Linked DNA regions of Homo sapiens: region 2 is linked to region 1. Evidence: fine-mapped expression QTL. A gene starts in region 1. The other region holds a variant in brackets. All regions are shown on one strand. Distances are between the middles of the regions.

Region 1 (5,371 bases):
TTATATTTCTGAAAAGCTGAGTTTTAAAGATGGATTTGGAAGGAAGAATGGTGCCTGACTCTTAAGTTCTATAATATTTTTCAATTAAAAGCTGGTGCTGGCTGGGCATGGTGGCTCACACTTATAATCTCAGCACTTTGGGAGGCCAAGGCGGGTGGATCACCTGAAGTCAGGAGTTCGAGACCTGCCTGGCCAGCATAGTGAAACCCCATCTCTACTAAAAAAAGAAAAAAAAATTAACCAGGCGTGGCAGCATGCGCCTGTGATCCCAGCTATACTCAGGAGGCTGCGGCAGGAGAATTGCTTGAACCCAGTAGGCAAAGGTTGCAGTGAGCCGAGACTGCGCCATTGCACTCCAGCCTGGGCAACAGAGCAAAAACTCCATCTCGAAAAAAGAAAAAACGAACAAGGCAGAGAGGTCTCTCATCTTGAGAACAGACCCATGGTAAGATTTATTTTACTTTAACAAGAAGTCTAAGGCTGAGAGTGGTGGCTCACACTTGTAATCCTAGCACTTTGGGAGGCCCAGGCAGGCGCATCACTTGAGGTCAGGAGTTTGAAACCAGCCTGGCCAACAGGTGAAACCCTGTCTCTACTAAAAATACAAAAAAATTAGCCGGGCATGGTGGTGGGCCCCTGTAGTCCCAGCTACTCGGAAGGCTGAGGCACGAGAATCGCTTGAGCCCGGGAGGCAGAGGTTGCAGTGAGCTGAGATCACGCCACTGTACTCCCACCTGGGCGACAGAGGGAGACTCCAACTCAAAAAAAAAAAAAAAAAAAAAAAAAAGAAGTGTATATGACAATAGAGAAATCCTTATTTGGGTGCTGTTGTTTCTTTCCAGCACAAGTTCACAAAATAAGCTAGGGAAAATCCCCCCCGCCCGGGAAATGTCTTGGTTGATTTCCCGTTTGCTCTCTTAGAGCATTTTCAGACACCTGCTCTATCTTTCTGCCCAAAGATAGAGATGCTGGGTGGGTTTCTATGTTCTAGGGATAGAAGGCAAGGACTTGGTCACTGTAACACAGAACTGAGCTAGCCACTTGGGTGTCTGGTTGGCAAGTTGCCCTGGTAACTCCTTGTTTAAATTGTAAACTAGATAGACCTTCAAAGCTACAATTATGAAAGTGTACTAACAGCCACAGCCCAACAGAAATGAAAATGTACAAGCAAGTACATTTGCAATTTTTAATTAGCTTTTTTTTTTTTGAGATGAAGTCTCCCTCTGTCGCCAGGCTGGAGTGCAGTGGCGCGATCTCGACTCACAGCAACCTCCGTCTCCCGGGTTCAAGCGATTTTCCTGCCTCATCCTCCCGAGTAGCTGGGTCTACAGGCGCGCGCCACTATGCCCAGCTAATTTCTGTATTTTTAGCAGAGACGTTTCACCATGTTGGGCAGGATGGTCTCACCTCTTGATTTCGTGATCCGCTTGCCTCGGCCTCCCAAAGTGCTGGGATTACAAGCGTGAGCCACGGAGCCCGTCCAATTTTTAATTAACACTTTTTTAATACTTCTTTAATTATTGTTTAAACCAAGTTTTCCAGCCTCCTTCATTAGCCTGTTTGGTATTTGCATGCTTTGCTTGAATATTTTATCTCCAGCCCATTCCACACCGTTAGTCAACATTTTCATCTGACAGACGGAATCAAGGCCTAGGCCTCCCTTAAACAAAACATCCCTCCCAAAAGTACCACTTATAAAAATTGCTTGCCACAGACATTCTTGCTACAGACATTCTTTGCGGATCTTTGGCCAGTAACATGCATATACCCACACATAGTTTGCAAATAACAACTATTCAACGTGAAGTGCTACAAAAGTACGATGATAAAGTGCTCGCCGCTTGAAGAAAAGCACTAATAATTGTAACAAAGCCAAAACACACACACACACAACGAAAAAAAACGCACGGTAAGCCAAGAGCTCTTTAAAAATAAAAAATAATCATTCTCGGGAACAAATAAGGTAGGTACAAACTTGCCAGGTGACTCTGTTACGCTTAAAGGTTCTGGCTGTCAACAGTCCCCGGCGTGGTGGCGGCGGCACCCTCAGTCCCATCCGACTGAGGGCGTTGATGCGGGAGCCTCGGGGCTGCGGGACTGTTCGGGATAGGACGCGAGAGCACCTGGACAAAGGCCTGAGGCGGCTGTGCAGAACAGGGAGTGGCCCCGAGGCCCGGGTTTGTCTTCCCTTCCGGTCACCCCTCCCGGCCCAATGTCCCCAGGCCCCTGCTTACCCCGCTGGGCGCCGTATCCCTGCGCTCGGCGCCGCGCTCCGGAGCGAGTTGACAGCCGCGGCAGGCGAAGGCGCGGCAGAGAGGGGGGAGAAAGGTCTTCTTCCCCGCCCGCAAGACCACCATGGCCCCACGCCCCCTGGCTCCCGCGGCGCACGGCAGCATTGCGACGGCGCGAGGGGCCGCTTTACGGCAGGGTCGCGAAGCCCGAGGAAGCGCGGCGGCGCGGCCGACCGTGCGCTTTCCCAGCGGTGCGACGGGGTGAGGGGGCGGCGGGCGGCGCGGGCTGACCCGGGCGGCCGCTCCTTGGTCGCGGTCACTCCAGGCTGCCTCGCTGCGCCGCTGGCGGTGGGCGTGGCGCTGCCGGCGGCTAGGCGCGGACGCCGGAGGAGGTGTCCCCGGGTTTAGGGGTGTTCGGCCAGGGGCGGGGCTGCCGGGCCCGGGCGACTGCCGGAGCTGCGGAAGTCGTGGAAGCGTCGGCGACGCATCGCGCGATGGCGCGGGCGGGACAGGTGAGCGAAGCGCGGCTTGTAGCCTTTTCCCTCTCTCGGGGGGACGAGTGGGGCACCACCTCCGCGCGGGGCTCCCCGCTGGGCCACCCCTTCGCCAGCGCCCAGCCCCGTGCGGCCTGTCGGATCAGGCAGGGCAGAGTCGGTCTCGGCGCTGTCCCCGCCCCTGGGGTCGGAAGCGACCGGGGCTGGCCGGGCCTGGTCTCTGGTGTCTCCGGCCGGGCCTCGGTTCCCCTCCTCCCCCGGCTTCCCCCGGCCGGGCCGAGCTCCCCTCGCGCGCCCATTGTGAGGTCACGTCCTGCAGGCGCGCCCTGGCACCCGGGCCAAGACGCCCGGAGCGGCTGCTGCAGCCAGTAGCGGCCCCTTCACCGGCTGCCCCGCTCAGACCTAGTCGGGAGGGGTGCGAGGCATGCAGCTGGGGGCCCAGCTCCGGTGCCGCACCCCGTAAAGGGCTGATCTTCCACCTCGCCACCTCAGCCACGGGACGCCAAGACCGCATCCAATTCAGACTTCTTTTGGGTAAAGGGCCAAGAGGGAAGGGCGAGGCGGGGAGGAAGCAGCTCGGGCCGCCTTCCCTCCGTGGCCTCCAGGACATCCGCCGGGGATAGATTATGCGTTTCCATTGGTTACCCACCTTGAGCGAGCCGTTTGATAGAAACCAAGAGCTTGAAACGTGCATTAGGCCATTGTGGACTCCCAGTGGGAGGCGAGTGAATGAATTATTCATAGTTACCACGTTTTCGCGGGTTGTTTTTTTTTGAGAGAGTGGAGCATGTTGGGGGCTGAGGAGGTGTTGGGCCTCGAAAGCCCAAGGTGGTGCCCTTCAGCGCTGTCCCGGTCGCTCTTCTTTACCTGTGGGGTTTTAATCTCTTCAGGGAGACTTCTGTGAGGGAAGATGTGTGAGGAGCTAAAAGGGTGGGGAGGGGAAGTGCACAAAGGGATGGAGAGAAACGAAGAAGCGGGGACCTTGGGGATGTCTGAGAGCCACTGGTTTTTGTTCTGGTTCTTTCTTTTGCTTAGAGTTTCTGGAAACTAGGCATAGCTGTGTGGCGGGGCGGGGTACTGTTAGTGTTCGGAAGGTTACAAGAGCTACTGTTTCACCTTTCATAAAGGTGCCCTGCTGGTTCCAAATAGTTTGTGTCGCGTACGGTGACTCACACCTTAATCCCAGCACTTTGGGAGGCGGAGGCGGGCGGATCGTCTGAGACCAGCCTGGGCAATATAGTGAGACCTGTCTCTACTAAAAATAACATTAGCTGGGCGTAGTGGTGTACGACTGTAGACCCAGCTACTGGGGAGGCTGAGGTGGGATGACTGCTCAGAAGTATACCTTTTTAAAATGAGAATTTTAGAATGACTTAATATACCATTAGTGTTCTGCAGAAGCCTTGTGCTGTAGTAAGTTATCATTCTTGTCGTCTTTTAGTGCTTGTGAAACTGAACACAACAAAAGTATGGATATGGGAAACCAACATCCTTCTATTAGTAGGCTTCAGGAAATCCAAAAGGAAGTAAAAAGTGTAGAACAGCAAGTTATCGGCTTCAGTGGTCTGTCAGATGACAAGAATTACAAGAAACTGGAGAGGATTCTAACAAAACAGCTTTTTGAAATAGACTCTGTAGATACTGAAGGAAAAGGAGATATTCAGCAAGCTAGGAAGCGGGCAGCACAGGAGACAGAACGTCTTCTCAAAGAGTTGGAGCAGAATGCAAACCACCCACACCGGATTGAAATACAGAACATTTTTGAGGAAGCCCAGTCCCTCGTGAGAGAGAAAATTGTGCCATTTTATAATGGAGGCAACTGCGTAACTGATGAGTTTGAAGAAGGCATCCAAGATATCATTCTGAGGCTGACACATGTTAAAACTGGAGGAAAAATCTCCTTGCGGAAAGCAAGGTATCACACTTTAACCAAAATCTGTGCGGTGCAAGAGATAATCGAAGACTGCATGAAAAAGCAGCCTTCCCTGCCGCTTTCCGAGGATGCACATCCTTCCGTTGCCAAAATCAACTTCGTGATGTGTGAGGTGAACAAGGCCCGAGGGGTCCTGATTGCACTTCTGATGGGTGTGAACAACAATGAGACCTGCAGGCACTTATCCTGTGTGCTCTCGGGGCTGATCGCTGACCTGGATGCTCTAGATGTGTGCGGCCGGACAGAAATCAGAAATTATCGGAGGGAGGTAGTAGAAGATATCAACAAATTATTGAAATATCTGGATTTGGAAGAGGAAGCAGACACAACTAAAGCATTTGACCTGAGACAGAATCATTCCATTTTAAAAATAGAAAAGGTCCTCAAGAGAATGAGAGAAATAAAAAATGAACTTCTCCAAGCACAAAACCCTTCTGAATTGTACCTGAGCTCCAAAACAGAATTGCAGGGTTTAATTGGACAGTTGGATGAGGTAAGTCTTGAAAAAAACCCCTGCATCCGGGAAGCCAGGAGAAGAGCAGTGATCGAGGTGCAAACTCTGATCACATATATTGACTTGAAGGAGGCCCTTGAGAAAAGAAAGCTGTTTGCTTGTGAGGAGCACCCATCCCATAAAGCCGTCTGGAACGTCCTTGGAAACTTGTCTGAGATCCAGGGAGAAGTTCTTTCATTTGATGGAAATCGAACCGATA
Region 2 (5,371 bases), 21 kb before region 1:
AGGAGTTTGAGACCAGCTGGGCCAACATGGTGAAACCCCGTCTCTACTAAAAATACTGGGGCCGGTGGGGGGTGGCAGAGGTTACAATGAGCCCAGATCATGCCACTTCACTCCAGCCTGGGCAAAAGAGTAAAACTCCGAATCAAAAAAAAAAAAGGCCAGGCGTGATAGCTCATGCCTGTAATTCCAGCACTTTGGGAGGCCGGGCTGGGCCGATCAGAAGATCAAGAGATAGAGACCATTCTGGCCAACATGGTAAAACCTCATCTCTACTAAAAATACAAAAATTAGCTGGGCGTGGTGGTGCACGTCTGTAGTCCCAGCTACTTGGGAAGCTGAGGCAGGAGGATCACTTGGGACCAGGAGTTCAAGACCAGCCTGGGCAACATAATAAGACCTCATCTCTCCAAAAAATAAAAAAATTAGCTAGGTATGGTGGTACATGCCTGTAGTCTTAGCTACTCAAGAGGCCGGGGAAGGAGGGTCACCTGAGCCCAGGAGTTCAAGGTTGCAGTGAGCCATGATCATACCACTGCACTCCAGCCTGGGCAACAGAGCCAGACCCTGTCTCGTTAAAAAAAAAAAAAAAAAAAAAAGGCCAGGTGCAGTGGCTCACGCCTATAATCTCAGCACTTTGGGAGGCTGAGGTGGGTGGATCACCTGAGGTCAGGAGTTCGAGACCAGCCTGGCCAACGTGCTGAAACACCGTCTCTACTAAAAATACAAAAATTAGCCGGGCATGGTAGCAGGCACCTGTAATCCCAGCTACTCAGGAGGCTGAGGTAGGAGAATTGCTTGAACTCAGGAGGTGGAGGTTGCAATGAGCCGAGATCGTGCCATTGCACTCCAGCCTGGGCAACAACAGCGAAACTCCGTCTCCAAAAACAAAACAAAAAAAAACAAAAAACAACAAAAAAGGGCCGGGCCGGGCATGGTGGCTCACGCCTGTAATCCCAGCACTTTGGGAGGCCGAGGCAAGTGGATCACAAGGTGAGGAGATCGAGACCATCCTGGCCAACATGGTGAAACCCCGTCTCTACTAAAAGTACAAAAATTAGCCGGGTGTAGTGGCGTGCGTCTGTAGTCCCAGTTACTCGGGAGGCTGAGGCAGGAGAATTGCTTGAACCCGGGAGGTGGAGGTTGCAGTGAGCCGAGTTCACACCACTGCACTCCAGCCTGGCGACAGAGCGAGACTCTGTTTCAAAAAAAAAAAAAAAAAGAGAAAAAACCTATAGAACGGGAGAAAAACATTTGCTAATCATCCATCTAATAAAGGTCTAGTATCGAGAATATGTAAATAACTTTTTTTTTTTTTTTGAGACGGAGTTTCGCTTTTGTTGCCCAGGCTGGAGTGCAATGGTACGATCTCGGCTCACCACAACCTCCACCTGCCAGGTTCAAGCAATTCTCCTGCCTCAGCCTCCCGAGTAGCTGGGATTACAGGTATGTGCCACCACGCCCAGCTAATTTTTTGTAGTTTTAGTAGAGACGGGTTTCTCCATGTTGGTCAGGCTGGTCTCGAACTCCCAACCTCAGGTGATCCACCCGCCTTGGCCTCCCAAAGTGCTGGTATTACAGGCGTGAGCCACCGCGCCTGGCCAAGAACTCTTTTTATCTCAGCAACAAAAAGACAAATCATCCTATTTATTTATTTATTTAGAGACAGAGTCTTGCTCTGTCACCCAGGCTGGAGTGCAGTGGCGCAATCTCGGCTCACTGCAAACTCTGCCTTCTGGGTTCAAGCGATTCTCCTGCCTCAGCCTCCTGAGTAGCTGGGATTACAGGCACGCACCACCATACCTGGCTAATTTTTGTATTTCTAGTAAAGACGGGGTTTCACCACATCGGTCAGACTGGTCTTGAACTCCTGACTTCATGATCCGCCCGCCTTGGCCTCCCAGAGTGCTGGGATTACAGGAGTGAGCCACTGCACCTGGCCAAATCATCCACTTTTAAAATGGGCAAAGGATTTAAACAGGAATTTCTCCAAAAAAGATACACGAACAACCAATAAGCACATGACAAGATGCTCAACACCACGGGAAATCAGAAAGACAAAGGCATGCCACGTCACACCCGCTAGGATAGCTATTATTAAACACAGACAATAACAAGTGTTGACAAGGATGTAGAGAAATTAGAACTCTCATACATTGCTGGTGGAAATAAAAAAATAGGTCAGGCCACTCTGAAAAACAGCTTTGTAATTCCTGAAAAAGTTAAACACAGAGTTCGTGATCATAAGACCCACGTGGCATTATAGAGAGGTATTTGGTCTTTGTCCCCTGTTCCTGGCACAGAGCTCCTAAAACCTCAGAATCTCCTGAGTGATGAAGGGTGATAGCAGCTGCTCCTGTTCGAATGGGGCAGCTCTGGTGGGCTCCTGTACTGCTTCGGGATGGGGGCCGGAAAGACCAAGCCTTGATTGGAAGCTCAAAACTTTCAGTTTTGGGGAAAGGAGAGGGAGTAGAGATTGAGCTAATTACCAACGGCCAATGATTTAATCAACCATGCCTACCTCATGAGACCTCCATAAAAATCCCTAAACCATGGGGTTCAGAGAGCATCCGGGCTACTGAACATATTGAGGTGCTGGGAGGCCAGGCACGGTGGCTCACGCCTGTTATCCCAGTGCTTTGTGGGGCCGAGGGAGGGTTGCTTGAGCCCAGGAGGCTGACGCTGCAGTGAGCCATGATCATGCCACTGCACTCAGCCTGGGCGACAGAGTGAGACCTGCTCAAAAAAACAAACAAACAAACAAAAGGTGCTGGGAGGA[T/C]GGCATGCCCAGAGAGGGCGCAGGGGCTCCGCATGCCCCCATACCTTGCCATGTGCATCTCTGCTATCTGGCTGTCCCTGAGTTGTATCCTTAATAATAAACCGCTAAGAGTAAGTAAAACACCTTTCTGAATGTTGTGATCCATTCTAGCAAATTATCAATCCTGTGGAGGGGGTCATAGTCTGATTTATAGCCTGTCAGGCAGAGGGACAAGTGGCCCAGGACTGGCAACCGGCAAAGGATGTAAACAGGAATTTATCCAAAGAGAAAGACTGCCTCAGTGGAGGCAATCTTGTGGGACTGGGTCTTTAACCTGTGGCATCAGACATGAACTCCAAGTAGACAGTGTCAGAATTGAACTGAATTGCTGGACACCTATAGCTGGTGTTGAGGAGTTGGAGAAGTGGAATTAGAGAAGACACCAGGTATTTGGTCTCAGGAGGAAAAAAGACTCTTTTTTTTTTTTTTTTTTTTTTTTTGAGATCGAGTCTTGCTCTGTTGCCCAGGCTGGAGTGCAATGGCACAATCTCGGCTCACTGCAACCTCCACCTCCCGGGTTCCAGCAAATTCTCCTGCTTCAGCCTCCCGAGTAGCTGGGATTACAGGCGCCCGCCACCACACCCAGCTAATTTTTTGTATTTTTAGTAGAGATCGGGTTTCACCATGTTGGCCAGGCTGGTCATGAACTCCTGACCTCAAGTGATCCGCCCACCTTGGCCTCCCAAAGAGCTGGGATTACAGGCGTGAGCCACCGCGCCAGGCCAAAAAGACTCTTAACTCAGCAGTTCACCTGTAGGTATACACAGGATTATTCACAGTAGCATAATTCATAATAGCCAAAGGGTAGAAATAATCCAAATGTTCATCAACTAGTAAGTGGATAAACAAAACATGGTATATCCGTATAGAATATTATACAGCCATTAAAAAAATCTCCAAAGTGCTAATACATGAGACAATATAAATAAATCTTGAAAACATTATGAACCTAAGTGAAAAAAAGGCAGACACAAAAGACCACATATTGTATGATTCCATTTATCTGGAAATGTTCAGAATAGGCAAATCCAGAGATATAAAGTGGGCTGCCGGGGTTAGGTGAGGCAGGAATTGAGACTGGCTAATGGGTGTGGGGTTTCTTCTTGAGGTGATGAAAATGTTCAGAATTAGTGATGTAGTTGTACAATCTTGTGACTACTAAAAGCCATGGAATTATACAGTTTAAAAGGGTGAATTTAGGCAGGGCACGACAAGGAGACTCCATCTCAAAAAAAAAAAAAAAAGGCAGGGTGAATTTTATGGTATGTGAATCGTATCTAAAGGTCACAGCATAATTCATTTTCTTCACAAGTGATTACGACCCAGGCAGGTATGTCTACCATACACAACGAGTGACGGGTTTCATCACGCACACTCCTGCAGGTTCTGCGGAGGAACTGGGAGCCACCGCTACACGGGAATGAAATGTGTCCTAACTTGAATGCATCCTAGGTTAACAGCCTGCCCATTCCTGGGACAGGTCCCGGCCTGACTACTCCAGCCCCGCGTGCTGGTGGGGCTGTTTACACATGAGGACCAGTGCCGCTTGCCTCTGTGGCACTCCCAGGGCGGTGGCCACGCTCAGGCTCACCCACACGCAAGAGAGGTAGGAAGGCCACAGGGCAGGACCCACAGCCCGTTACAGGGAGTGGCAGGGCTGCCCTGAAGTAGGGTCCCCAAAGCAGCCCAGGGGACAGTCTCATGCCCCCCAGCTATGGCTCAGGGACCAGGGAATGGAACCACATCCAGGGTGGCGGGTGCAGGAGGCGCACTCTGACTTAGCAGCCCCAGTCCCCGAACAGGAAGTGAGGTCTCTTGTAAGAGCGCTGGGCTCTGGCTCAGGGGCTCCTGCATCTCCAGCACTTCCCATGAGGAGGCGCGGAGGCCACGCTCAGCTCCTACCCAGGGTGCTCGCTAGCCTCCCCGGCAGACTGCCTTTCCCTGAAGGTGCCACCTTCAGCAGAGCGCATACCACCCTGTGGCACAGCTAATGCTGATGCTCCGGCCCAAGGGGGAGTGGGCAAAGTGGCCAAAGGCATGATTCCACCCTCCCTCCACAGAGCAGGGAGGGTGTCTGGCAACCCCTTTATTCCCACAGACAGAAACAAACACTCAGACGGCACAGCACAAGCACGGCTGTCCCCTAGCCACACGGCAGACAGGACAGGAGCCACGTGTCCTCTGGCCGCCCGGGCAGGTCTAGTGCCACCGGAATGAAGAACAGTTTAACTCTACAGCCCCCTGCTCTGCTTTTCCCTTCAGTTCTGCCATTTCCTACGTCATCTGGGGCTACTTCATTTTCTTCTGTGCCTCGGTTTACTCAACTGTGTAAGGGAGATGGCGGCAGCACAGCTGTCCCCTCCATCCATGGTTTTTCTTTCCATGGTTTCAGTTACCCGAGGTAAAGTGGGGTCTGAAAATATTAAATGGAAAATTCCAGAAATGAACAAGTCATAAGTTTTGAACTGCATGCTGTTCTGAGTAGCGTGATGAAACCTCCCAAGGTCCTACTCCGACCAGCCCAGGAGGCGACTCCTCCCTCTGTCCAGCACCTCC

The links. PIP is the estimated chance that this variant, and not a neighbour inherited with it, causes the effect. A credible set is the group of variants that fine-mapping cannot tell apart.
Region 2: its variant is the best candidate, but not a certain one, in a credible set for the expression of COA8 in whole blood (TOPMed, PIP 0.88).

The regions. Positions count from the first base shown.
Region 1 is chr14:103,559,988-103,565,358 of GRCh38, reverse strand. It overlaps COA8 (cytochrome c oxidase assembly factor 8), which reads right to left and starts at 2,399. Exons shown (of 5, transcript NM_001370595.2): 1 at 2,235-2,399. The coding sequence starts at 2,357. It overlaps BAG5 (BAG cochaperone 5), which reads left to right and starts at 2,702. Exons shown (of 2, transcript NM_001015048.3): 1 at 2,702-2,743; 2 at 4,167-5,371. The coding sequence starts at 4,195. RefSeq lists a silencer at 2,445-3,094 and enhancers at 3,435-3,484, 3,584-4,097.
Region 2 is chr14:103,581,426-103,586,796 of GRCh38, reverse strand. The region is part of intron 3 of COA8 (cytochrome c oxidase assembly factor 8); the gene reads right to left. Among named protein-coding and RNA genes, the nearest start is that of COA8, 21 kb to the right of the region's middle. The variant T/C (reference allele first, on the strand shown) is at 2,777.